Linked DNA regions of Homo sapiens. The protein of the gene in region 1 interacts with the protein of each later gene in a biochemical or structural test. Each region holds a gene or a part of one and is shown in the gene's direction. Other genes may lie near its edges.

Region 1 (7,027 bases):
AGAAAAGGTAAACATGCCATTTTTATATAGACTTAGTGCCCACCACCCCCTACCCCCTGCCAAATCCTGGTTATAGACTAACAGTTGCTGTTAGATGCTTATGAAAAATAACCCTGTTTCCCAGGATGAGCCTAACTTGGGCTCACACTAACTTGGGCTGGGTTCATATTGATACATTTCTTCCTTTTTCTCCCCTAATTTTTGTCTGGAGGAAAAAATGTATCTTCGTTCTCTTAATTTTGGGCTAACTTCTACTGCAGGATTTTCTGGCCTGAAGAAAGTTCTTCCATATGAGTGTAGTTGTGAACAAAGCGTAGCTCCAGGAGTTTTGTTCTGCATAGTGGGGAGCGGTGGAAACCACGAGGCTATCGCAGGTGGTGGACTTGGCAGAGAGAGGAGCATATGGGTTTGACAGCGGAAATAGATGTCACCATCTGGTACCCGGGCCCTTCAGATGATTCCATTACCTCCCTGTCCTACCCCATATCTAGGTTGAGTGCGGATGGCATTTGAGATATATTTGCTTAATTTTTTTTTTCTTTTTTAATGACATAGTCCTGGTTTTAAGCAAATGGAGATAAAAGGTGATGTGCTCTGTTAGGGATGTCTGCCAAGGCAAAGCTCACAGAAGACGGGAGAAGTTTCTGAGGATAGACTACCTCTGACATTATTGCTTGGATTGGAGCTGGGCTGTTTCCTGTTAGAAAAGGCAGAATACAAGCCCCAGGGAAGGGGCCAATCGGTGTGCCAGCTACTGGAGCGCAAGGAGGATTCATTCCTGGATGAGAGGTGACTCAGCAGAGAGATTTCCTAGAGACACCTCCTGCCTCCTCCTTGTATGACGTTCAAATCAGACTTCTAGACATACAGCTTGTTAGGTGTTTAGTGATTAACTTTTCTGTGGGACTTGAATGTAAATGCCAGACTATGGCAGTTTGGGATATGGTCAGTTAAGCCAGATATGCTTTGAATAGCTTGTTAGATTTAAACATCTAGAATTTTGATGGCTGTGAACTTTGAGGATCTTACTTGGGATTATGGAATTATAGAGACACAGGGCAAATGAGATAAATGGGGTTCTCTTTTGTAGTTTTGTTGTTGTTTAGTTCATGTGGTCAGGTTATTCAGTGGCATGTCCCATGCAGATTTCTTACATCTGCCATCAGCTATGACATCATGCCTGGATTCCAGTAACAGGATGGCATTTCATCAAATTCTGAAAGTCATCATTATTTGGACTAGAACAACCTATTCCTTAAAATGCCTAGTAAGACGAAATCTGGAAACAACCCCCCAGGTTGGAACTCCTTAACAAAATCAGGGCACCTTTGCTGCAGTTGGCTGCAGTGTCACTTACCTGGAGAAGGCGCCTTGTTCACCCCAGGATGACCTGTCTGTGGGTTAAAAAACGGTGCTGTCCCCTTTGAGTCAGAATGGTGCTGGCCATTCCCCTGTCGTCTTTTCCTGCCAAGTTGGATTCAGTGCTGCATGCTGGATTTCTGGCATGCTGGAGTTAGTGATGGGGCAAAGATATGTTTGGAATTGGATGAAACTCTGGACACCTCTTCAGCTCCACTGTTTAGACAGCAGCTGGCTGGAGTGGCCTCCCAGTCAGTATCATCCATTCTCGAGACTAGAGGCAATCCCACTTCTGCTGATGGTCACCCAGAATTCCATCTCCCCACCTCCTCTCCAGATCCATGAGAAAGAAGAGGAAGAGTTCAATGAGAAGAGTGAAAATGATTCCGGTATCAACGAGGAGCCTCTGCTCACAGCAGATCAGGTATAAGTATCTCTCCAGGTTATCGGGACCTTTTGTTCTTTTGATGGAGAAAAAGTCCAAGAGAACACACTTGCCACATCCATTTAAGGCAGAAGAAAGATATGTGGTCATGTGGTGCCTGTGCTCATGACTCAGAGTATTTTTTGTTTCTTTTTTTTCTTTATATATATATACTTTTGAGACAGAGTCTTGCTCTGTTGCCCAGGCTGGAGTGCAGTGGCGTGATCTTGGCTCATTGCAACCTCTGCCTCCCGGATTCAAGTGACTTTCCTGCCTCAGCCTCCCGAGTAGCTGGGACTACAGGCATGCACCACCATGCCTGGCTAATTCTTATAAAAAATTTTTTGGTAGAGATGTGATTTCACCATGTTGGCCAGGCTGGTCTCAAACTCCTAACCTCAAGTGATCTGCCCACCTCAACCTCCCAAAGTGCTGGGATTATAGGCATGAGCCACTGTGCCTGACCTTTTTTTTTTTTCATTTTGAGACAGGGTCTCACTTTGTCACCCAGGCCAGAGTGCAGTGGCAAAATCAGGGTTCACTATAGCCTCAACCTCCTTGGCTCAAGCGATCCTCCCGCCTCAGGCCCCTAAGTAGCTGGGACTACAGGCATGCATCACTATGCCCAGCTAATTTTCTGTACTTTTAGTGGAGATGAGGTTTCACCATGCTGCCCAGGCTGGTCTCAAACTCCTGGACTCAAGCAGTCCACCCGCCTTGGCCTCCCAAAGTGCTGGGATTACAGGCATGAGCCACGGTGACTGTCCAACTCAGAGTATTTTTGATAAGGGATTTCATCTCTCTTTCTGCCTCAGGTTGCCCACCTGCAGTGAACATGAATGTCATTCTTGACACTTGGGATAGTTGGGGTCAGTCTCTGATAGGAGCCAGAGACAGGCATAGTGTTTAGTAGCTACAATCCTGCTAAGCCTTCTTATTGAAATTCGTTGTACTCGGAGTCAAGACACTCAAACAAGGGTCCCAAATACCTGTTTTCCCAAAAAGAGAAGTGACAGATGAGGCTTTTGTGTGATGGATATTTTCTTACATTTCATAGAACACTCAAAATTTTGGGCCTTCCGAAAGGAGTCTTAGAGCCACTTCGACTTTGTGAAAAAAGATAGAGTGCTTCGCATTCAATTGAGATCATCATAGCTTTAATAATTTATTACTTAGAGAGGATAATGTTCAGTTTCTGGATTCCTTATTTAATGTTTTAGTCAACAAATATTTATGGGTGCTTATTTTGAGCTAAACACTACATAAGTTTCCACAAAGTCTTTCTGCAAAGCTCCACTGGCAGCCTTCGGTGCCAGAAAGTGCTTTTTTAGCAGCAATGGTGCTTTTTCATATCTGTGATAGAAAGGTGGGAATTGAAACACGTGAGGATTAGGAGACTGAAGAGAACCAGATTTTTAAAAATAGGGGCTAATAGCTATTCTTGTGACTTGTAGGAGGATCTACAATTCAATGATATGAACTCAATTATAACTCCTCTTAGAGAAAAGGACATTCAGCCATAAGACCCTGACAGGGACTTGTGTCATTTGGTTGCATTCTGTAAAATGGCTTTCAGTAGTCAAAGACTGGGTATTTCCTAAGTTTGTGAGTAGAGGTGAAAAGGTTTGGGAATAAGAATGGAAATTATTCTAAAGGAGGAGACCCTGAAACCCCTTACCTTTGGTCCAGCCCACTGTGAAGAAACCACCTCAAAGAGTACAATGCTGGCCTCGGGGACTTTAGTCCATCCATGGAGAACAGACAAAGGTGAAGGTTGGGACAAAACTCATCTAAAGACCTGCTTTCAGCAGCAGTCTTCTTTATTTGTAAATAATTAATGTACAAAGTAAGTCACTCTTTTTTTTGTTGTTGTTGTTGAAACAGGATCTGGCTCTATTGCCCAGGCTGGAGTCCAGTGGCCCAGTCTCGGTTCACTGCAACCTCTACCTCTTGGGCTCAAGCCATCCTCCCACCTCAACCTCCCAAGTAACATGGACTACAGACACACGTCACCACAACTGGCTAATTTTTCTGCTTTTTGCAGAGATGGGGTTTCGCCATGTTGCTCAGGCTGGTCTTGAACTCCTGAGCTCAAGTGATCCACCTGCCTCGGCTTCCCAAAGTGCTGGGATTACAGGCATGAGACACCATGCCCAGCTAGTAATTCACTTTTGTTCCTTTTGGCAGATATCTAATTTTCCCTCCACTTCTGGGAGCTGGCTCCTGTCAATAGTCTAGATTAGAGCTGGGGTTCTTATCTATTTGCTGCTCTCTAGACTCCACCTATCCTTCTATTATTTCATTATCTCTATTTTCATTTGTTGCTGGGCAGCTTCAGTTCCTGTCTAGGTGAATTCTGGAGAAATAGTTGTTTTCCTCCCCATTTTGTGTTGTTCTAGGAGCACGCTATTTTTTACAGTCACGTGTATTATGTCAATTAATGGACTGGGTTTTGTGTTAAAGTTGGGTGAATGAAATATTTTCCCACTTAGAAATAGCTCAGCACATTGAAGTAAATGTTCCCTTCCAGGCAGCTCTGCCTTGCTTCCTGAAAGAGCAGCTTATTTCCAATAAGTCATTTATCTAAAAGGAGCTCTTGGAAGAGGTTTTACATTAAAGAGTGCCTTACATTAAAGAAAGAGTGTATGCAAGCCTTTGGTTGGAACTATTTTTATTATTCAGTATTTATGTAAAAACAATATTGCTTTAGAAATTTTCAGATAGCTAATTAGGAACATCCTTAACTGATCAAAATTCAAGCCAGAATGCCCCTCTAGCAGAGAACAGAGTTAGCACTCTCTCGTGTACCTTCTTCAGGTAATTGAGGAGATTGAGGAAATGATGCAGAACTCCCCAGACCCTGAGGAAGAAGAGGAGGTTCTGGAAGAAGAGGATGGAGGAGAAACTTCCTCCCAGGCAGACTCGGTCCTCCTGCAGGAGATGCAGGCATTGACACAGACCTTCAACAACAACTGGTCCTATGAAGGTGAGGGCCCTGGGCGCTGGGCTGGCCGAGGAGGAAGCACCTGCTCGGGGCCAGGCTCTGGGCTGTGTGCTTTGTACATGGCTAATAGAACCCTGACTGCCTCAGAGCAGAGCCTTGCAGATCTAGGTGGTCAGCAATACCTTTCTTACTCGGCATCAGGAGAGAAGTTTGCATTTTTGAGAAAAGAACAAGGTAGTCGAGCAAAATTTAAATGTTAAAACTAACCAAAGAACAAGACTAAGGCAGAATAAGCAGAAGAAATCTGAACTACTATATAAAAGCAATGAATGATGCTACCATAAAATCAATGAATAAAAAAGGTAATAGTAACAGCTCATATTTCTGAAGTGCTTTCTATGTGCCAGACCTTATTCTAAGACTTTCTTTCTTTTTTTTTTGAGACAGAGTCTCTCTCTGTCTGTCACCCAGGCTGGAGTGTAGCGGCATGGTCTTAGCTCACTGCAACCTCCACCTCCCAGGTTGAAGTGATTCTCAAGCCTCAGCCTCCTGAGTAGTTGGGACTACAGGCACGTGCCACCACGCCCTGCTAATTTGTGTATTTTTGTAGAGACGAGGTTTCGCCATGTTGGCAAGGCTGGTCTCAAACTCCTGGCCTCAAGTGATCTGCCTGCCTCAGCCTCCCAAAGTGCTGGGATTACAAGTGTGAGCCACTGCGCCTGGCCTTATTCTAAGACTTCCTATGCCTAATCTCATTTCATCTTCACACCAACCCCATTTGGATCAAGCTAACCGAGTCTTTCAGAGGTTACATGACTTGTCCAAGGCCACTGTTAGGGAAATATGATTAGAAATGAGATTTCCTTCCTGTTCAGAAAACCTCTCCACAAAGACAGGTGAGAAAGAAAACTATTTTGTTACTATTTTTATTTATTTATTTATTTTTTAGAGATAGAATCTCGCTCTGTCGCCCAGGCTAGAGTGCAGTGGCATGATCTTGGCTCACTGCAGCCTCTGCCTCCCAGCTTCACGCGATTCTCCTGCCTCAGCCCCCTGAGTAGCCGGGATTACAGGCATGCATCACCATGCCCAGCTACTTTTTGTGTTTTTAGTAGAGATGGGGTTTCTCCACGTTGGCCAGGCTGTTCTCAAACTCCTGACCTCAGGTTATCCGCCTGCCTCGGTCTCCCAAAGTGCTGGGATTACAGGTGTGAGCCACCATGCCCGGCCTAGAAAACTATTTTATTATTGAATAAGCACTAAACCAGGATGGGAGCCACATCACAGACAACTCTCTGAAGAGACTGCAAAGACAGAAAGCAGTCTCACTCTTGTGTAGCTAAGTGGATGAATGGAACCCATTACATTGAGTAGGTTTTGCAATTTGGAGTCGGAAGGGAGTTAGGCCCCTCTGCTCAGAACAATGAGAGATGATTATGTTTCTTTTTCTTTTCTTTCTTTCCTTCTTTTTTTTGAGACAGAGTCTTGCTCTGTTGCCCAGGCTGGAGTGCAGTGGCATGATCTCTGCTCACTGCAACCTCCGCCTCCCAGGTTCAAGCAGTTCTCCTGCCTCATCCTCCCGAGTAGCTGGGATTACAGGCATGCACCACTACGCCTGGCTAATTTTTATATTCTTAGTAGAGATGAGGTTTCACATGTTGGCCAAGGTGGTCTCGAACTCTTGACCTCGTGATCCGACTGCCTCGGCCTCCCAAAGTGCTGGGATTACAGGCATGACCCACTGCGCCCGGCCCGATGATTATATTTCAAAGCAGTAACCTCCAGGCCCTTGAAGAAAGCCTCCTGAATTATAAGAATGACAAGAGGCTTATTTTAGCCATGACAATAATTTAATGTAAATGTAACATATGTTTATTTTAAAGATTTAATCTAAATCTTTGAGAGATTGAAAAGGATAGGTAGAAGAAATTCTGAAAGAAAAGGGAGGTGGGGGAGAGGAAAAGTCTCTTCCCTTATTTTCAACGGGGAGAATCAAGCCTCTCATTTAAAATTTGTATTTGTGCTTAGTCCATGCAGAAGCCATAAGGGGTGAAGCTAACATTTGAAGCCAGGTAGGTTAACTCCAGAGGCCATCCTCTTAACTCTCTGACACAGGTTTATAGTAATTATGACTGTGCACAAGAAACGGCTGGATGAAGCATGAAATGAAAAAGTGTAACACAGCAAAGGCAGAACAATTCACCAGCCGTAGGGTATCAAATGCCCACGCTGCAGAAGGGGCCCCATCCTAGGAGTTGATCCACCCATGGGGAGATGGGAACTTAGAAACAGGGGAGGGA
Region 2 (7,165 bases), on another chromosome or scaffold:
GACAAAGGCATAAATGACTATTCCTCTACCACCCACCTCACCCCTTCCCCACATGTAAATTGTATATTCAGTGAAACGCTGAGCAAAGACTCAAAAGAATGCAACCATTTGTCTCTTATCTATCTATGACCTGGAAGCCCCAGCATCAAGTTGTCCTGCCTTTCCAGATGGAACCAATGTACATCTTGTACATATTGACTGATGTCTCATGTCTCCCTAAAATGTATAAAAGCAAGCTGTATCCCAACCACCTTGGGCACATGTAGTCAGGACCTCCTGAGGCTGTGTCACGTGCACGTCCTTAGCCTTGGCAATATAAACCTTCTAAATTGAGACCTGTCTCAGATACTTTTGGTTCATGCCAACATATCTATGAGTACCTTACAGAACCCAAGGGCAAGCTCAACTACCAGGCCCTGGGGAACACAGGAGGCAGGACCCACCATTAGTGCCTCTGCTCTAACCACTCCCACCAACCACCTGTCAGTTCCAACCAGCAGATTTGCTGGAGAGAAACTGACCAGTACAGTTTGAGCCACAGGCTTAACCCAGCAAGTATTCACTATTAGACAATCAGGGGCCACTCAAGGATTAGAAACCCAGTCACTGGACACCTAAGTGTCCACCTGTTCCCAAAGAAGGGCAGTCATTGGAAATCACTCCCAGAGCCATATGCCACATTCCCCAAAAAGGGAAAAGAGGAGAGAAAGAGGAGAGCAAAGAGCTTTTGTAGGACTGTGACTGCTTGGCCAAGGTATCCAACTCTGATTCTTTAAGGCGTGTTGGGGGATAACTTCTCAACTGGGGCCTGACTGGATGGAAGGAATGAAGGTGGGGAGGGCAGGGGCAGAAAAGACAGGAAAGAAAAAAAGGGTCAGTGAGCCTGGCCCTTAGACCTTGGAAAACTTTGTAGTCTTTGACCACAATTCCATCTCTGGCACTCAGAAAAAATAATAATCCTAAATAATAAAAAGTTTTATGTTCAAAAATAATTATACAGAACCACACAAAAAAGATATCCAACTTCTGGGGGGGCAAATGTAACTACGGTAGGAATCATGATAGCTGACATTTATTAACCACTTATGATGTTCTAGGCACTGTGTTAAGAATTTGTCACCACCTATTTCATCAGACTCAAGAAGTGAAATAATTGCTAACATGTTATAACAAGTCATGGGTGGAGTCCAGATCTGAACCCAGTTCTGACAGCAAAGCCAACTGTCTTTAGCACCACAGTGTACTGTACTACAGAAACTGCACTGTACTACATAAAAAATGGCAACTGTGAAAACTACATAGCAATATGGGGAAAGATTATGATAAAGTATGCCTTGAATAAAGACTACAAAATTATACATAAAGAATGGCTGGGAGCGGTGGCTCACACCCGTAATCCCAGCACTTTGGGAGGCCGAGGCGGGCAGATCACCTGAGGTTGGGAGTCCGAGACCAGCCGGACCAACATGGAGAAACCCCATCTCTACTAAAAATACAAGATTAGCCGGGAGCAGTGGTACATGCCTGTAATCCCAGCTACTCGGGAGGCTGAAGCAGGAGAATCGCTTGAATCCGGGAGGCAGAGGTTGCGGTGAGCCGAGATCGCGCCATTGCACTCCAGCCTGGGCAACCAGAGTGAAACTCTGTCTCAAAAGAAAAAAGAAAAAAGAAAAAAAAAGAACAGTTACAAGCATGAACTCCCCCACCACCACCACCACACACACACACACACACAGAGGCTGGCTGGGCGTATCAGGCTGGGTGTAATCAGGAAAGAGTAACCTTACAGTAATTTGAACAGGAAAATAATAATATAAACATGTATTAATTATAATAGGGGACTGTAGTCCCCTACAGTTATAAGGAACTGCCTAGTAAAAAGAAAAAAGAATGCTAAATAATACAAGAATAGCAGATATAAGTAGCCACTACCTCAAGGACTGAGACAGAGCACCTAAGAAAAGGTCCTAGATCCCCTTAGACCAGGGCAAGTTGGTGCAGAAGAAGTTGTGTACCGCAATAGCCTAGCATTGAATACAAATGCTGTTTAGAAAAATATGGGGAACATGGAGGTTTCATCCATACCAACTGACTTTGGACCCAACATCACACAGTGCCTGGTACAGATACCCAAGTGTTTTCTACATATATGTCTGAACACCCCAGATAGGAGATATTCTTTTAGGGCAAGGGTTATGTTTCATCCTCCTCCTATAGCCAACCCTATACTTGGTATACATAATGAGTTCAACAACAATTTACTTTTGAACAGAATATATGAACTCTGAGGGAAGACTCCTATTAATCTGTGCCTTTTTTCCATTAATTTTTATTCTATTTTTTCTACTGTAAAAACAAAAATAATGCTTATTAAAGAAAATGCAAAGGTTAAACAAAAGGAGAAAAATATCAGCCATATTCCTGCTACCCAGAAATAATCACTGTTAGTACTTTGGTGCATTTTTTATACCAATAGTTTTCTTTTTTCTTTAAACATAGATGTACAGACATCGTATCCTCCATGCAATTTCATATCCTGAATTTTTTTACTTATCATAAAAAAAGCATTTCTCCAACTCCTCATCAGCTCTTTATTTAAGAATTAATGGTGAATTATTCTCTATAGAAAATGTTTACATTGATGTTGAAACTACCTCAAATGCTAACTGCACAATCTCTTTCTGAAGATTTTAGGTAGTTTACTTAACCACTTCCCTTTTGGAACTCTGAGGTTCTATTTTATTTTTCCTATTATAAATAATTCCATAATGAACATCACTGTACTTCATATTATCTCTGATAGGCCTATTTCCGACGATGGCTGTCCCACGTGTGAAATTACCAGTTCAGATGCTACAAATGCATTTATGGCCACTGAGCAAAACTTAAGATCACCAGCCACCTGCTTCTAAACATGGAAACTGGTAGCTTTCCCTTTTACAACAGGACACAAACCCGAAGCTCCTTCTATGCCCTCTAGTACTAACACTTGCTTACCTATCACCTAACACAGCCTCCCCTCTTCCCTGCCCATAAAACGCTGCCCAGCCCTACATAATTACACGACCCTGGGCTGGTCCCATCGCCTTTCGGACCTCATCAGTCCCCATGCTGCGCAGTTGGAGAGTGGCATGACTGAAGTGCTGGACCAGAGCATATCCTACGGCCCCTCCTGGAGGGGAGGTGGTGCCCTGGGCGCCGAAACCAAGCGCAGGGTCTTGGCAGGGCGCAGTCGCTTCGCCGGTAGACCCGGGGACTCAAAGCAATAGAACTACAGCTTGGAGCTCCAGGGAGAGCCCAAGACACCGCAGCCCTTCCCCATCTAGATTCCGAGATTGGCCCCTGGGCCCCACTCCCAGCCTTCACTTCATCTCCCCTGAAGCCCTTTCTCTTGCCCGCGGCTCACCTAGTCCACCCTCCAGACCTCATTCGGACTTCCCATTCTTCCCAGTGGAGGGGTCGCCCAAACCCCTCGGGGTCTCCTTTCCCCCTCTCCTTTTCTTTCCGCGCCGTCCAAGCCAGTCCCACTCTCCACACTCTGGAAGGTATCGGCTACCCCCAATATTGCGACTGCCTTGCAAGATCCCCCCATCACCTCCTCCGCATGTCTTTCCACGTATCTGTATGGGGTTGTCCCTCTGTCTTTCCCGCCATGACTGGCTTTCCGTCCTATTTCACCCACCCTTCCTCCCACGGATCCGCGAGTCCTCTGGCCCTGGCCCTTTCATTTTATTAGTCCGCCCCTCTCCTGATAGCACCTCTATCCTCTTTAGGTCCCCTCATATGCCCCTCCTCCAAGTCTGTCCCTCAGCGTCCCCGTCCGCGTCTCTACTGTCTGTCCCCGAATGTGTTCCTCTGTTCCTGGAGTCTGGCCCTCGGTCCAGCCAGGCCCCTGCTCACCATCCCTCCCCCGGGCCGGAGAGTCTGCAGCCCGGTTCCCGGTTCTCGCTGGGGTAACTCTTTCCTCTTCCACTTTCTCTACTTTGAACCCATCCCAGCAGAGTCCAGGAAGTAGCCTGGCGCCGGAGACTGGCGGCGGCGACGCCCAATGGGACGCGCCAGCGGCGGCGGCAGCCCCGCCCAGAGAGCAAATGAGACCAATGGTCGCGTGAAGGCGGGACTTCCGCTGTCCCGCGAAGGGCGGGGGGAGCGAACTGTTGTGGTGCGGAGCGTTCGGCGGGCGGCGGCCGGGCGGCCCAGGGGCTGCCGCGGGACTCGGGGCGCAGCCGAGTGGCTGCAGGGGTGGAGTGGGCCGGACGAGCCGCGGGGCCCGGGTGCCGCGGGTTCGAGGCCGGGCCCCGCGCGAGGAGGCCGCGCCACCCCGGGGGAGCTGCCCGGCAGCGAGTTTGCCCCGCTGCCGAAAGAAGGCGGGAGCCGGCAGGGGCCTTCGAAACCCCCTGGCAACCCAGGCCCGGAGTCCTTGGGGAGCGGCTGTTTCCTGGGACGCCCTCCCGGACACCCCCGCTGCAGGGTTACGGTTCTGGGCCCCCGGCAGAAGGCTCCTCCGGGTGACCCCCGGCGGGGCCCTGCGAGCCGCGGGAGCCGACCCCGGGGCCTCGAGCCGGGAGGAAGGGGGCTTCCGGAGGCGGAGGGCCGGGGGCCGAGGGAGCCGGGCCTCTCGGACGCGGGGCAGGGCAGCGCCCGGGCTGGAGACGGACTCTGGGACCCTCGGCTGCGGGGGTCTCAGCGACCTGCCCCGCGGCAAGCGCGGCCGCGGAGTGGCCTACCGGGGACCCTCCCCCAGAGGGACCGGCCCGGGGCGGGGAGATGAACGGCTTCAGCACGGAGGAGGACAGCCGCGAAGGGCCCCCCGCCGCCCCAGCTGCCGCCGCCCCGGGCTACGGCCAGAGCTGCTGCCTCATCGAGGACGGCGAGCGCTGCGTCCGGCCCGCGGGCAACGCCTCCTTCAGCAAGAGGGTCCAGAAGAGCATCTCGCAGAAGAAACTCAAGCTGGACATCGACAAGAGCGTGAGTCCGCCCCCGCTCGCGTCTGGGCCCCGGCGCCCCCAGCTCTCCGTCCGCTGCCCTGGGCTCCAGTCGGGACTCCCCGGGCACTCCCCGCCGTGGGCCTCGCCGCCCCGGCTCTGCAGAACTGAGTTGGACTCCGCATTTCAAAGGCCGCTCCAGCGCTGACATGCTCTGACTGTGATTCTACCCAGATCCGGGAGGATGGGGGCGGGGGCTTCAGGACTCCTGCTGCCTGGAAAGATTGGACAGCAGTTTCCAACTTGTTTTATTGGTTTAGACTTTAGAGCAGGGAGAGGTGGGTTAGTTTTGTTGGCCCTTGAAGGAGCAAGAATCGGAGCGGGGAGTGATGAAGATACCCGGCTCTTTTCCAACTTCTCTCTCCTTCTAGGAACCCTGTTATTCCTTCAGACAGAGAAAGGTGGCAGTTACTTCCCTGGCTCCCGCATCCTCGGTATCAGCAGAGGGTCACCGAGCTAGCTGCTTCGCAGGCAGCTGTGGGAATGGGTTTTTCTAGGATGTGGCAGAAATAAGGCCAAGGCCAGGTCTTGAGAAATGGCTCTTGCAGTCGATGTGACTGGAGGGGGGAAGAAAAGAAATCAATTTTCTTAGTGGTAGTTTCTTTTGAAATAAGGGGGTGGATATTTAAATTTAAATCGGATTGCCCTGCTCTTTGTGGCTTATTATAGGAAACTCCTCCCGTGTGACTTCACCACTTCTAGTTAACAATTCTGAAGCTGTGCCTATTGTCAACCAATTAAGAACTTTTTAGTTTGACATCTGTTGCTACAAGCCTTAAGTGATTGCTTCATGATTAGGAATTGGAAATGAGTTAAGGGGATATTTAATATTCAGGTAGACTAGCTAAGAGCTTAGGTGGTTAACATCCATTCTCTTCTAGAATCAGAATTTCTCCACAGTTGGAGGAAATCAGAGACTGCTTGTTAAACTGAAAGGGAGTGCACGTTTCCCCTCTGATTTTAGGGTTGAAACAGGCCCAGAGATAGGAAGTGAGGGTGTCAGGTACACACAGCACCTAAGAGGCTGGTTAATTTCTTAAAGATATTATCTAATTTACTTCCAAGCCCTATACATAAGTCTTCATTAAGTCTCTAATAAATAAAAAATCTCCCCTGTCCTTTTTCTTTTCTTTTTTTTTTCTTTTTCTTTTTTTTTTTTTTTTTTTTTTTTGAGACGGAGTCTCACTCTGTCACCCAGGCTGGAGTGCAGTGGCAAGATCTCGACTCACTGCAACCTCCGCCTCCCGGGTTGAAGCGATTCTCCTGCCTCAGCCTCCTGAATAGCTGGGATTACAGGCGTTTGCCGCCATGCCTGGCTGATTTTTGTATTTTTAATGGAGATAGGGTTTCGCCATGTTGGACAGGCTGGTCTTGAACTCCTGACCTCAAATGATCCACCCGCCTAGGCCTCCCAAAGTTCTGGGATTACAGGCGTGAGCCACTGCGCCCAGCCCCTGTCCTTTCTTCAGACTCTTCCCTCCTACCCCCATTTTTAAGTTAATCATTATAATACAGTTGCAGCTCTTGCATGGACAGGTGCTATTTTTAAGTGGTTGGGAGAGAGTTAATGGCTTTCTTACTACAAATCTCTATCAATGAATGCATGAATGGAAATATCTGAGAACAAACAAGGGTCTAGACACCAAGGTGATCCCTCCTTAGGTCACACGTTGAGGTGAAATGCTTATGGCAATGAATTCATCCACTTAGAAACACTGCCTACCTTCCGTGTAGGTTGTTAGAAGCTGCTTTACTTGAGCAGCTTATAATAATAATTTCCAGTCCTTAAAAGAATCTTCCAGTCCTTTTAGATCACTGGATGCCTTCCCATCTGAATGATTTTGCTGCTGCAACTGGGACTCCTTTTATTTACCCATTGACTGTACTGGAAAACCTGTGTTGAGCTATGCTGATCATTTCACACACACTGTCTAGAAGAAGGGCAGCCTGAGCCTAGCATTAGTGTTCCCAAAATGTAATACTTCTGAGGTAGTAAGGTTTCCAGGTGGAATCACTCAAAATTTGTTTTAAGGTGGTGTTGTGGAGTCATTATTTCTGAAAGGGATTCTATTTCTTTCTCACAGGCTTGGGCAGGAATTCAATTCCAGGTAACTGGTATGTTACAAGAATTTTTAGCTATTGCAGAAAGTGAAGGAAAAAAAAAAACTAGAGCCTTTGCT
Region 3 (7,027 bases), on another chromosome or scaffold:
GGGGTTTCACCGTGTTAGCCCAGGATGGTCTCAATCTCCTGACCTCGTGATCCGCCCGCCTCGGCCTTCCAAAGTGCTGGGATTACAGGTGTGAGCCACCGCGCCCGGCCGAGGTAGTTTTTTAGTAGTCCTTTACTCCTATAAATTACTTTTTTTTTTTTTTTTTGATGATCTGTTAATAGTCCTTGGTTTAGAGGCTTTTGCATACTTGAGTTTTCACCAAAAAATTCTTTTCAAACCAGTGAGGCATTACAGACCAGTGAAGATATTGTATAATCTAAAATGTGTCTCTTCACTTTCATCAGTCCTTGAGGAAGGTGTAACTTTTTTTTGTGACCATATGAGGAACACATGTAACCTTTGTGGAAGAAATAGAATAAACTTTTTTCAAGGTCAACAGAATATTAAAATAAATGAAAAAAATTAAATTCACTAATACAGGATCAATGTAAAATTATCTTCAACAAATTAGTTGTCCAGAACACAAAGGGCTGGTTCAATAACTGTTAATTTTACTCTCAGCAGAACCTAGAACAAATAATATTCGTTTGTTTTTAATTTAAAAAATCTTTTTTTTTTTTGTAGAGACGGGGGTCTTGCCATGTTTCCCAGGATGGTCTCAAACTCCTGACCTCAAGCGATCCTCCCACTTCAGCCTCCCAAAGTGGGAGCCAGACAAATAGTTATTTTGGGAAAAATATCTTTGAAGTTTTTCTTTTTAATTCAATTAAAAATTTTTGAGGTTAGGTAAGCAGTTCTCATGAGACATTTCCAAAGCTTTTGCCTTTGTATTGTTACTCTGTAGTTGAAAACTTGTGTCAGATATGGTAGGTGACATTGATTTGATTACAAAATAATACACTTATATTATTGAAACTTCAAGCTTATATTTCAGGGTTAAAACAGGCAAGGCGGTGATCTTTTAATCTAATTTAGGAAATTAGGTAAGGCAGAGTTTCATATTTTAACAAAATGAAAATGTATGATTATACAGTCCGTGAAAAAGGCTGGTATAACCAGACTGGTAGCTTTAGGAACTTTTAAATTATGTGCACTTTTTGGTCCCTGTCATAGATCACCTAGAATTCTTGTGCTTTTTAAATTTTTTTGTGAGACAGAGTTTCGCTCTTGTTGCCCAGGCTGGAGTGCAATGGCGCGATCTTGGCTCATTGCAACCTCTGCCTCCCGGGTTCAAGCGATTTTCCTGCGTCAGCCTCCCAAGTAGCTGGAATTACAGGCATGCGCCACCATACCCGGCTAATTTTGTATTTTTAGTAGCGACGGGGTTTCTCCATGTTGGTCAGGCTGGTCTTGAACTCCTGACCTCAGGTGATCTGCCTGCCTCGGCCTCCCAAAGTGCTGGGATTACAGGCATGAGCCACTGTGCCCGGTAGTCTTGTGCTTTTAAGTAGAGTACTTTAACTTCACTGTTGTTTGTTATTTATATAGTGTATTACAGTGAGTTCATTGCCCTATAGTTCACTGCCTATAGGTTCATTGCAGAACCATGACTAAGTTCATTCTCTTCAGGAACCTACATTCCAAGGCATCATTATTTACATTATATTAATTCTATAATCTACTCATGTGTTGTTTTTCGTATCTCAAGGTGGTGCTGTGAGTAGGTGGTGTGTTTATTTTTGAGATAGGGTCTGGCTCTATCGCCCAGTCTGGAATGCAATGGCATGATCTTGGCTCACTGCAACCTCTGCCTCCTGGGCTCAAGTGATCCTCCCACCTCAGCCTCCCAAGCTGAGACTACAGGCTCATGCCACCACACCTGGCCAATTTTTGTATTTTTTTCTAGAGACAGGGTTTCACCATGTTGCCCAGGCTGGTCTCAAACTCCTGGGCTCAAGTGATCCACCCGCCTTGGCCTCCCAAAGTGCTGAGATTACAGGCATGAGCCACCATGCCCAGCCAAGTAGGTGTTTTAAACTGTTTTTCGACAATGGTAATGAGATTGCATAAGTGATTTTTCTCTCCTAACTCTTCTTTATGACCTAGTTCATCTGCAAGATGGTTGGCTGGGATTCCGGGTGTGGTCAAGATTTTAGAAAGTGTTGGCCGGGCGCAGTGGCCCACGCCTGTAATCCCAGCGCTTTGGGAGGCCGAGGTGGGTGGATCACCTGAGTTCGGGAGTTCAAGACCAGCCTGTCCAACATGGAGAAACCCCATCTCTACTAAAAATACAAAATTAGCTGGGCGTGGTGGCACATGCCTGTGATCCGAGGTACTCAGGAGGCTGAGGCAGGAGAATTGCTTGAACCCGGGAGGCGGAGGTTGCAGTGGGCCGAGATCACACCACTACACTCCAGCCTGGGCAACAAGAGTGAAACTCCATCTCAAAAAAAAAAAAAAAAGATTTAGAAAGTGTTTTAAGTATTCCTTTCCAAATGCAGAATATGTGACCTTGGACTTTTTAGCAAGGTTCTGTAAGTGGAAGAAAATTGACATTAAACAACAGCCTTAGGAGCCTCTTCTGTGCCAGGCACTTGATAGCTGTTTCTCATTAGAGAAAACATTATAATCAAGCAGGTACTGTTTTCCTAATTTTACAAGTCAGGAAACTGGGATTCAGGTTAAGTAACTTGTCCATAGCGACCTGGCTTAGAAGTGATGGGGTTGGAATTCAAACCCAGTGCTCTGGACTCGAAAGTCCTCTTTATTCTACTGCTCAACAACTGACATAAATTCACCACAGCTTTTGTATCAACATCCTACGTAACACTGACCCACTCTGTTTTGATATACATAGTTTTTCTGTAGAAGTGCTGTTTTGCATGAATGCATTCATGATGTGATCAGGGCTTTTGGTACTGGTCCTCCCACTCCCAATTTTTTTTTTAAATGCCTGTCGCGTTAAAAATTTGGGAGTTGGGGCCGGGCGCGGTGGCTCACGCCTGTAATCCCAGCACTTCGGGAGGTCGAGGCAGGCGGATCACGTGAAACCCCGTCTCTACTAAAAATACAAAAATTTGCTGGGTGTGATGGTACGCACCTGTAATCCCAGCTACTCAGGAGGCTGAAGTAGGAGAATTGCTTAAACTCAGGAGACAGAGGTTGCAGTGAGCCGAGATTGCGCCACTGTACTCTAGCCTGGGAGGCAGAGCAAGACTCCATCAAAAAAACAAACAAACAAAAAAACACACACACAGAAAAACAAACAAAAAAGCAATTATAATTAAATTTGAGTAGAGGAGATAGATAGGAATCCAACAGTTATAGAATAGTGCCAGGTGCTATGGTGGAGGTATGCACAACTCACTTAAGAAACATGAGAAGGGACCCCGGGAGAGGCAGGGTCTTAGTGAAGACTTTCAAGAAAAAGTGATACTTAACGCTGAGTAGCAGTTGCCCTGGGAACTGGCTCGAAATTGGGGAGCTCAAGAAACAGCAGCAAGTAGTGTGACTGGAGAGGTGGGTTTTACCTCGGGTGTGTGGCAGGTACCTGATCTTGGAGGGCTGTCAGAAACGTTTAGGAGTTTGAACTTTCTTTTTGTTGTTGTTTTTTGGGACAGAATCTCTCTCTGTTGCCCAGGCTGGAGTGAAGTGGCATGATCTCGGCTCACTGCAGCCTCTGGTTCCCGGGTTCAAGTGATTCTCCTGCCTCAGCCTCCCAAGTAGCTGGGATTACAGGTGCATGCCACCATGCCCTGCTGATTTTTTTTTTTTTTTGTATTTTTAGTAAAGATGGGGTTTTACCATGTTGACTAGGCTGGTTTCAAACTCCTGACCTCAAGTGGCCCACCTGCCTCTGCCTGCCAAAGTGCTGGGATTACAGGCGTGAGCCACTGCACGTGGCTGAGTTTGAACTTTCTCTGTAAAATGCCTTTTAGGGATTTTAAGAGATTAGAAAGATGGGTGGCAAGGGAGTAAAGGGTAGTTTGGGAGAAGGTGGCTGCAGACTGCAAGACATATTAGGAGGCTGTTGTTGCTGTATAGGAGCGAGGCAGTGGAGTCCAAGGGAACTAAGGCATTGCCTGTGGGAATGGAGGGGAGCAGACAGACACCAAAAATACCAAGGACTGTGATTAACCCAGTTTTGATGATCAGTTAGCTGTGAAGGAGGGGAGGGGAGGAGAGATGGAGAAATGACACCTTGGTTTCTAGCTATGGAGAAGGATAGATAAGGGTTGAATAAGGAATTCCAGAGAAGCAGCAGATTTTGGAGAAAGCACATGTTTCTTTTTTTTTTTTTCGTCTTTTGAGACAGGGTCTCCCTCTGTCGCCCAGGCTGGAGTGCAGTGGCGCAACCTCAGCTCACTGCAACCTCTGCCCCCTGGGTTCAAGTGATTCTCCTGCCTCAGCCTTCCAAGTAGCTGCCAGCCATGCCCAGCTAATTTTTTAATTTTTAGTAGAGACGGTGTTTCACCATATTGGCCAGGCTGGTCTTGAACTCCAGACCTTGGTGATCCGCCTGCCATGGCCTCCCAAAGTGCTGGGATTACAGGTGTCAGCTACCACGCCAGGCCTCCGGCTAATTTTTGTATATTTTGTAGAGACAGGGTCTTGCCATGTTGCCCAGGCTGGTCTCAAACTCCTGGGCTCAAGTGATCTGCCCACCTCAGCCTCCCAGAGTGCTGAGATTGCAAGTTTAATTTTGGACCACCAAAAAGATGAGTCCACATGTAGACCCCCACTCTGGCCTTGGTGCTCTAACATCTCCATTTCTTTCTTCTTTTTTCTTTTTTTTTTTTTGAGATGGAGTTTCGCTCTTGTTGCCCAGGCTGGAGTGCAATGGCGCGATCTCAGCTCGCTGCAACCTCTGCCTCCCAGGTTCAAGCGATTCTCCTGCCTCAGCCTCCCGAGTAGCTGGGATTACAAGCATGTACCACCATGCCTGGCTAATTTTTTTGTATTTTTATTAGAGACGGGATTTCTCCATGTTGGCTTGGCGGGTCTCAAACTCTTGACCTTAGGTGATCTGCCTGCCTCAGCCTCCCAAAGTGCTGGGATTACCGGCGTGAGCCACCGCACCCAGCCTAACATCCCCACCTCTTTGACCATTTCTTCCCTTGTAACAGGCCTGAGGACCTGAGGTCCCTTTTTTCCTCAGAAGATAGTTGCTACCATTCACTTTATAACCAGGACTCTTTCTTAAGCCTGGGAGGACAGTGGGATGTATCCTGCCAGGCCCTTTCCTCTCCTTTTGTTCATTGTAGACAAGAGACAGAGAATGATAATAAGGATATAAACTTGCTTCACAAGGTTGGCATCCTTATCCCCTGTTTTACAGATAAGAAAATGGAGGCTAATAGAAATTAATTTATTGAAAGGCACACAACTAGTAAGTGGTAGAACCTGGACTCTAATCCAGGTTCTGACTCCAGAGTTTTCTATCGCTTTACTACCTCTAAAACAAGACTTAACCTCAGCCAACTGTAACCTTTTTGGCATTCTTTTTTTTTTTTTTTTTTGATGGAGTTTCGCTCTCGTCACTCAGGCTTGAGTGCAATGGCCTGATCTCGGCTCACTGCAACCTCTGCCTCCTGGGTTCAAGCAATTCTCCTGCCTAAGCCTCCCAAGTAGCTTTGATTACAGGCTCCCGCCAGCATGCCCAGCTAATTTTTGTATTTTTAGTAGAGATGGGGTTTCTCCAAGTTGGCCAGGCTGGTCTCGAACTTCTGACCTCAGGCGATCCCCCCGCCTCGGCCTTCCAAAGTGCTGGGATTACAAGCGTGAACGACTGTGCCCGGCCACATTTATAGCATTCTTACGGTCCCTTCTGAGATAGGAAGTGGAAGCCCCAGTGGACTTTTTGTTTGTTTGTTTGTTTTTTAAGACAGAGCCTCGCTGTGTCCCCATGCTGGAGTGCAGTGGCACGATCTCTGCTCACTGCAACCTCCGCCTCCCGAGTTCAAGTGATTCTCCTGCCTCAGCCTCCCGAGTAGCTGGGGTTACAGGCACATGCCACTACTGCCCGGCTAATTTTTGTATTTTTAGTAGAGGGGTTTCACCATGTTGGCCAGGCTGGTCTCAAACTCCTGACCTCAAATGATCCACCCACCTCAGCCTCCCAAAGTTGTGGGATTACAGGCATGATGCTGGAGTGCAGTGGTGCTATCTTGGCTCACTACAACCTCTGACTCCTGAATTCAAGCGATTCTCCTGGGTCAGCCCCTCGAGTATCTGGGATTACAGGCGCCCGCCGCCAGGCCCAGCCCTCCAGTGGACTTTCATTCCCGTTTGTTATTGCTGAGAGTGGAGCTCATCAAGTAGCCCCAAGCTCTTGTAGGGAAAGAAGGCAGAAAGACTTCTCTGTGCAAAGTGCATTTTCTCACACGGCACTTGTAGTATCTAGTGGAAATGTCTTCCTGTAAACGGTTCATTCAACAGCGCTTACAGTTGACTAGCTGCATCCCTGATAACAGACAAACGTTGCTGTATGGAGCTTCGTCCTAGTGGGAGGAGAGGGATAAAAAACAAGCATGGCCGGGCGTGGTGGCTCACGCCTGTAATCCCAGCACTTTGGGATGCTGAGGCGGGTGGATCACGAGGTCAGGAGTTCGAGACCAGCCTGACCAACATGGTGAAACCCTGTCTCTACTAAAAATACAAAAATTAGCCGGGCGTGGTGGTGCACGCCTGTAATCCTAGCAACTCAGGAGGCTGAGGCAGGAGAATAGCTTGAACCCGGGAGGCAGGGGTTACAGTGAGCTGAGATTGCACCACTGCACTCTAGCCTGGGCGACAGAGTGAGACTGTGTCTCAAAAGCAAAGAAACAAACAAACAAACATGTTCACATAAGGTGTCATTTGATGAGAAGTGCTGTGAAGAGAAATACTTAGGGATGGAGTATTGTTACAGAGTATTTCTGTGGCCTACAGGTACAGAGAACAATCAGATATGTGTAACGTGTGCACTTTGAGGAGGTGGTCTTGAAAAGAATTTCAGGGATGGCTGGGAGCTTGCTCGGGGAAGAATGTTCCCAGGTAAAGGGAACAGCAGGTTCAGAAGGCCTTGAGGTAAACTCATTCTTGAGCTGTTCCAGGAATAGCAAGGATGCCAAGCATGGTTAGAGCC
Region 4 (7,027 bases), on another chromosome or scaffold:
ATAATTCATTTTTTTTTGTTTTTTTTGAGACAGAGTCTTATTGCCCAGGCTGGAGTGCAGTGTCGTGATCTCGGCTCATTGCAACCTCCACCCCCTGGGCTCAAGTGATTCTCCTGCCTCAGCCTCCCAAATAGCTGGGATTATAGGCGTGCGCCACCACACCTGACTACTTTTTGTATTTTTAGTAGAGACAGGGTTTCACCATGTTGGCCAGGCTGGTCTTGAACTCCTGATCTCAGATGATCCACACACCTCAGCCTCCCAAAGTGCTGGGATTACAAATGTGAGCCACTGCGCCTGGCCCTAGAATAGTTCTTATCAAGGATGTGGTATTAAACGTTTTTTGTGTGTGTGAGATGGAGTCTTGCTCTGTTGTCCAGGCTAGAGTGCAGTGGCACAGTCTCAGCTCACTGCAACCTCTGCCTCCTGGGTTCAAGTGATTCTCCTGCCTCAGCCTCCTGAGTAGCTTGGCCTACAGGTGCTACCATGCCTGGCCAATTTTTGTATTTTTAGTAGAGATGGGGTCTCACCATGTTGGCCAGGCTGGCCTCGAACTCCTGACCTCAAATGATTCACCCCTCCTTGGCCTCCCAAAGTGCTGGGATTACAGGTGTGAGCCACTGCACCTGGCAAAACTTGTAGACACAAAAAGCAATATGTAAAATTTTGAACAAGAATTTATTTCTAGATTATTTGCCCAAACATTAATTTTATTACTTTAAATGTTAAATTCATAGACTAAAATTGAGGGTTTTAAATGTTGATGCTTAATTTTAGCAATAAAAATGTTTATAAAATGTATTTGTATTCCATACAAAATGTGTTTGCATATTCATACAAAAAAGTCTAAGATTGCATTGAAATATATATATGTATATAGTAAGAGAGAAAATTAAGTTTTAAAAAAAAGTTTGGGGAAGTCAACAAATTGGACAAATGAGCACAAGCAGTATAACATGAAGCCAGGAATGAAGAATACAAACTTCATGTTCAAAAGGTTTCCACATTTTCTAAAAACAGGAAACAAATTTGGTGCTGGTCTTTCTCACAAAGCAGAAAACCTAATTAATTACATGAGTCACAGTATTCATGAGACAAAACATTTTAGTTGCTCAGAGGACAGCTATTTTTGGTATTGAAACCAAAGGAACAATTTTCCCATGATCTTTAAAAAGAGGGCACTATCATACAGTGTTCCTCAAACTTGAATAACATGTGGATCCCTTTAAGGAGCAAAAAGTATTTTTTTCAGGCATGAGAATCCAAGGGTCTATAAACCCCAGTAAAAAAAAAAAAACTCAAGTCTTAGTGGTAGAAAATTTCTGTTAGTTGTGAATTATTACTGTAAAACATGTTGTATTTTTCTAAATATTAAAAAATTTTATCAAAATGAAAATATAAAAGGTAAACATTTTCTGGTACTTGTGGATTTCTTATTTTATTGAGACCTTGGACTTCATTTTACAAAACAGTGCTATAATGGAATGAAAAGTATCCTCAGTAATTTTTACAATATTTAGATTTCATGAGGCTGTTTCTCATATGTCATGCTGTAAGTTAATGGCACGAAGCCAGAGGATGATTCCATTTCAGTAATTCTGTAGAGTGTATCAAACCAATTCTATTCATATTCAGACTATTCCACCTCCAGGCGGTTCTCCTTAAGTATTGTTTCAATAGAGCTTTTCATAAGTAATCAGCAACAATGTGCTTGGGGTTCAGTTTTGCTCAACAAGTATCTGGAGAGCTTTTAGTTTGCCTTGCCCCTTAAGTGGAGAGCTGTAACAATCAACTTATTCACAAGGTAGAATTGACACCCTCTTTTGACAACTGAGTGGCTTCAAAAGGATATAAGCCTACACAGAAGGCCATTTCCCCTGCAAAGGACCAAGAATCAGGCTAGGTTAATACACCACTCAGGAAGCAATATCAGATTTTCTCTAGTACACAAATGGAAAGGGAAAGAGAACCCCAGAGTTCTGTATCATAAAGCCTGACAGTAATTCCTTCACCCTAGAAAAAATGTAAAGCAATTGAAGATGCCTACCCTGGCAATCTTTTCTAAAACTCTTAGTACATACCATTACAGCAGGTGTAGCTTAAAAAAAAATTGAGTACAGCCCATAAAATATTGTAACTTGCTACTATAGCTACTAAAGAAACTGGTTATAAAATGGATATTGAATTATGTGGATGACTTGCTGTTTTGTATTGTTAATCATGAGAGTTAAATGAAATGACTAGATATAGATTTCATATTCATTGATTCAGAATAACCGTTTTGCACTCCTTCTTATTGGAAGTCAGTAGAGCCCATATATAGCTGTTCTTTTTGATTTGGGGAGTTTTTTGTTGGGATTTTTTTTTTTCTATGGAGACAGGGCCTTGCTCTGTCACCCAGGTTGGAGTGCAGTGGCATGATCTCAACTCACTGCAACCTCCGCCTCCTGGGCTCAAGCAGTCCTCCCACTTCAGCCTCCTGAGTAACTGGTACTACTGGCGTGAGCTACCATGCCTGACTCATTTTTGTATTTTTTTGGCAGAGATGGCATTTCGCCATGTTGATCTCAAACTCCTGGCCTGAAGCTGTCCTCCCACCTCAGCTTCCCAAAGTGTTAGGATTACAGGTGTGACCCACCGCACCCAGCCTACCTGTCTTAGAGATAGTTGTCCAGACAGCTATCTTTTAGGCCACATCTAGGAGATGGTAAAGCCATGTCATCTACATATGGTACTTACACACTTTTATTTTCTGTGTTGGGGAAAAGGGAGAGTAAAGAAGGGAAGGGGTAAGCAAAATTTTATCTCGCTCACCCGAAAGTGACATCAAGTCATTAAGATACAAGTTAAAAAGAAGATTGTCAAAAACACATTTCTGTTTTATTTCACTGGAAATTATATAAGTCCTGAAAAGACAGCCTCAGCTATTTAACTCTCCTGATACTGTTATGGTGCAGGTTTGGTAAGCGTCAATATCTTCAGCCGTTGATAAAGTTAATGCTTTTTTTTCCATAGCTAGATACTATCCAGAGTCAGAAGTCAAATAGAGCTAATAAAATGTGTAAGCGATTTGATAGTATTCCTAATAAATTCTTCCACAAGGAGAGGAGTATAACAGCTGTGGCCAGTGGCAACCTGGCAGAGGCTACCATGTTCTCACATTGAGTATTAGCATTAGCGGCCCAAGTTTATAGATTCTTCTTTTTTTTTTTTTTTTTTTTTTTTTTTTTTTGAGATGGAGTCTTGCTCTGTCGCCCAGGCTGGAGTACAGTGACATGATCTCGGCTCACTGCAACCTCTGCCTCCCAGGTTCAAGCAATTCTCCTGTCTCACCCTCCCAAGTAGCTGGCATTACAGGCATGTGCCACCACACCCAGCTAATTTTTGTATTTTTAGTAGAGACAGGGTTTCACCATGTTGGCCAGGCTGGTCTCAAACTCCTGACCTCAGGTGATCTGTCTGCCTCGGTCTCCCAAAGTGCTGGGATTACAGGCATGAGCCACTATGCCTGGCCATTATAGACTCTTAAGAAAGAGACACATACCTTCTCTTCATATTCATTTTAGGTGGAATATTGGGCTGCGTTTATGTAATGAAATTGTATACATCGGCTAAAATGAATGAATTAAATTCCGACTGTCAATATGGATAAGCCCCACAAACATGATGAGTTGAATAAGTAGAATATTACACCATTTATGTAGTGTTTCTAAACAATTTTATTTAGATGTGCATGTACGTAATAAAAATAAAAGCAAAAACCATGAGCGGGAAGAATACACATCAATTTCAGAGTACTGAAAATGCCCCTGGGGAAGAAAGGAAGGCAGTAAGATTGAGAAAGGGTACTCTGCATCTGTAATATGGTTTTACTTAAATAATCCAAACCACTATGGCCAAAAGTTAGCTTTTGTTAATTCTACATATTATGGATATGTGTGTTCATTACTTTCCTGATTATTTGAAAAGTAAGTAAATTATAGTCCAGTGATAAGTGTTACCTTGGAAGCAATAAAATGTATGTAAGTTATAAAGTAATGATCCAACTACATTGATGGTGACAGGATAGGTCTTCCTAGGGGAGAGGACATCAAAGTTGGATTCTGAAAGACAAATGGGAATTTAATGCAAATAAGTACTCATACATGGAAGTATGCAAAATGTAGTAGGGAAACTATAAGCAATTCAGTGTTCCTAAAGCATAAATTATAGGGGCAGTTAAGGAAGGTGGGGAATGAAATTTGGTAAGATGAGAAATATTTAAAAGGCCAGATCATGAAGGGCTTTGTAATCCACGTTAAGGAGCGTGGATTCCATTTTGAGGCAGCAGGGAGCTAACAAATGTTTTAAGCAGTGCAGTGATTTGACATGACCCTTGGATTTTAATGAAAGATCACTTTTGCTAGAATGTGGAAGATAGTGCTTGCATATAAGATTAAGTTAACCAGTCTGTTTAATTCACTTGATTATAATCTTTAGAATTAAAAAAATTGAAAATAACAAAAATGTCTATAAATAGTAATGGTTAGTTATGTCATATCCATTAAACAGAATACTCTGCAGACATTGAAGTCAACATAGAATATATCCATGATTTATTCTTTAACATTTTATTGTCAAATTTTTATCATATTGAAAATCTGAAAGAACTTTACAGTGATCACCCATGCACCCACCACCTAGATTCTAACATTAGCATTTTCTAATCTTACATTATCACTTATGTATCCACCTTTCCATTCACTAGGGTGTTTTCAGTGGAAAACCTATGTTTCAAAACTGCATTTTAGTGTAATTTTTAAAAGATATTTGTGTATGCATAGGAAAGCATTGTGGGAGGATTTATATAAAGTTAACATTGGTTGTCTTTCACTTACAGATGATTTTTGCTTCCCATTTTATTCTTCATTGTATTGTCTGAATATTTTACAAGGAATGTGTGATAAAATAATTTTAAAAGTATGTTTAAAACTACATTAAAGCTCTTCTCCTTTAGCATGAACAAGAATGGGTTTTTTTTAAAGTAGATACAGCTTGATTTGAAATGAAGTCAATTTTTTTCTTTTTTCTACAGATAATGATGAATAATCCTCAAAATGTTTTTTAATCCTCAACTATATGAAAGCATTTGAATTTGGCTTATCAGAATAACAAGCTTCAGTGGGAAATACAGCAATTATTTATTTAAAAAATCAGATTTAAGATGGACTTTCTTATTGCATGAAAAAGATGGAGAAACATGCCATTTTTCAGTGAAGATTCTAATATTTTATCTATTTTGTTCATTGAATTCCATGGTTAAATCTCATAAAATATATACTTTATTAAATCATCCAACCAAAGCATAGGAAACATTGACCCAGAACCTGACTTAATGGTTTTGAAGATTTACTATGCAATAGGGTAACTTTGAGTTTCAGCAAATGTCTTTAGGTTGAAGGAATTACCTATGTCATGAAGGACCTGTCTGTGGTTTTTCAATGGAGTCTTTAAGCATGATCTTTTTTCTGTCTAGTACTTGTTTTCATTCTGGCCAGCAGTTCTACATTAAATCACCTTGTCAAGGGCTCTGTTTACATCTATACATTTTGAAGATGAAATTTTTAGCCTTAAAGTTTATATTCTCAAGTCCTTTTACAATCAGTGTGTCTCCTGAACTAGCACACAGGCTGTAGAAACAGTCTTAGAAATCATTGAAAGATTTGATTATGAAAGAATAGCAAAATTATATTTCTTGACATATAAAAAGTTGGTTTAATGCCTTTATTTCTCTTTAAGGACCAGAACCAGGAATACTATATCGAAAAATTAGTCTGTGGATTTAACACTGACTTAGCATATAGCTTAAAGTTGCTCTTTTGGTTTTTAACTTCCTCCATACATAAGCTTCAAGGACAATAAGATGTTAAAAAGGAGGAAATAATTATTTTTATTTTGACACTGTGACAGTTTTGGTAACTAGGATCCTAGGGAGGGAAATGTTTGCCTGTTGAACTTCTTTCTGTTATGAGAGGATTTAGTTAGGTCATTAAGATGTTGATCACACAGCTTCAATCACAATATGCCAAGTATAACCTGGTTTCGTTAGAGGTGTCTACAGTCCAGATGTTCTTCGTAATAAAAGCAAAGTTTTTGAACCTCTGAGTCCAAAGCAGGCTGGTTGGCATAATATGTAATTTGAAAAATAAAATCTTATCTTGCAGCACTATCAGTATGTTGAATTTATTATGTATATTATTTCTAATATCCGAAACTAAATACTTGATTTTTTAATATGTGTGTTTATTTTATGATATTGCTATTAAATTTTTATTATCTACCTGAAGTATATCAATTGTCTTTTATTTATTATTTTACTTTTCTCAATAGAAGGCTTTTACATCAAGCTGATAATACTTTTGTTGGTTTTGTACCTGATGATTTCTTTCTTCATAATGGAAGAAAATGAATTCAATATTTTAATTCTTTACAATCCTGAAAGATGGGCATGATTTTGGGGAGGTTGTGTATTAATTCTTAAACTATTACAACTATTAGAAAAGGGTATAATATGGTAGAAAAAAATTGTTTTAGCCATATTTCAAAAGATGTTATATATGTGCAGGAATAAGGATGATCAATAAGATTTGTGCCATCTCCAGTCGATTAGCAGTGTGTGACTCTGGAGTGTTGTTATGGAAAGATTATGCCAGTGAGGAAAAGGGCTATTTTTCAGTAAGGTCTATTATAAGTGTTGGAATTGACATGTGGAAGCATCTGTAGATTAATAAATGTTAGCATTAAATGGGCTATCAGGATAACTTTGTCTTTTCTGCATTTAACATGCAAGGATATTGAACATGAAATTAAGTCACTTGTGTAAAGGGTCAGGGTCAGAGCAGTTTCTAGGTCTTACACTGTTATTAGTTGCACATTCTTATCTCCCCCAGAGAACCAAAAAGAATAAATTTGATAGGAATTTGGGAGGCCGAGGCAGGTGAATCATGAGGTCAGGAGTTCAAGACCAGCCTGGCCAAGATGGTGAAAC

Evidence for each region.
Region 2: the proteins of FEZ1 (region 1) and SAP30L form a complex in vitro, tested with the Homo sapiens proteins (one study listed by BioGRID).
Region 3: of the proteins of FEZ1 (region 1) and UBE4B, one has a biochemical effect on the other in vitro, tested with the Homo sapiens proteins (one study listed by BioGRID).
Region 4: the proteins of FEZ1 (region 1) and NEK1 form a complex in vitro, tested with the Homo sapiens proteins (one study listed by BioGRID).

Annotation. Positions count from the first base shown.
Region 1 is NC_000011.10:125,458,240-125,465,266, reverse strand, and holds part of FEZ1 (fasciculation and elongation protein zeta-1), read left to right. Parts: intron 1-1,696; coding exon 1,697-1,783; intron 1,784-4,600; coding exon 4,601-4,769; intron 4,770-7,027. UniProt on the Homo sapiens protein: May be involved in axonal outgrowth as component of the network of molecules that regulate cellular morphology and axon guidance machinery.
Region 2 is NC_000005.10:154,441,838-154,449,002, forward strand, and holds the start of SAP30L (histone deacetylase complex subunit SAP30L), read left to right. Parts: upstream 1-4,159; 5' UTR 4,160-4,767; coding exon 4,768-4,968; intron 4,969-7,165.
Region 3 is NC_000001.11:10,035,934-10,042,960, forward strand, and holds part of UBE4B (ubiquitin conjugation factor E4 B), read left to right. Parts: intron 1-7,027. UniProt on the Homo sapiens protein: Ubiquitin-protein ligase that probably functions as an E3 ligase in conjunction with specific E1 and E2 ligases. May also function as an E4 ligase mediating the assembly of polyubiquitin chains on substrates ubiquitinated by another E3 ubiquitin ligase.
Region 4 is NC_000004.12:169,392,571-169,399,597, reverse strand, and holds the end of NEK1 (serine/threonine-protein kinase Nek1), read left to right. Parts: intron 1-5,074; coding exon 5,075-5,088; 3' UTR 5,089-6,789; downstream 6,790-7,027. UniProt on the Homo sapiens protein: Phosphorylates serines and threonines, but also appears to possess tyrosine kinase activity. Involved in DNA damage checkpoint control and for proper DNA damage repair.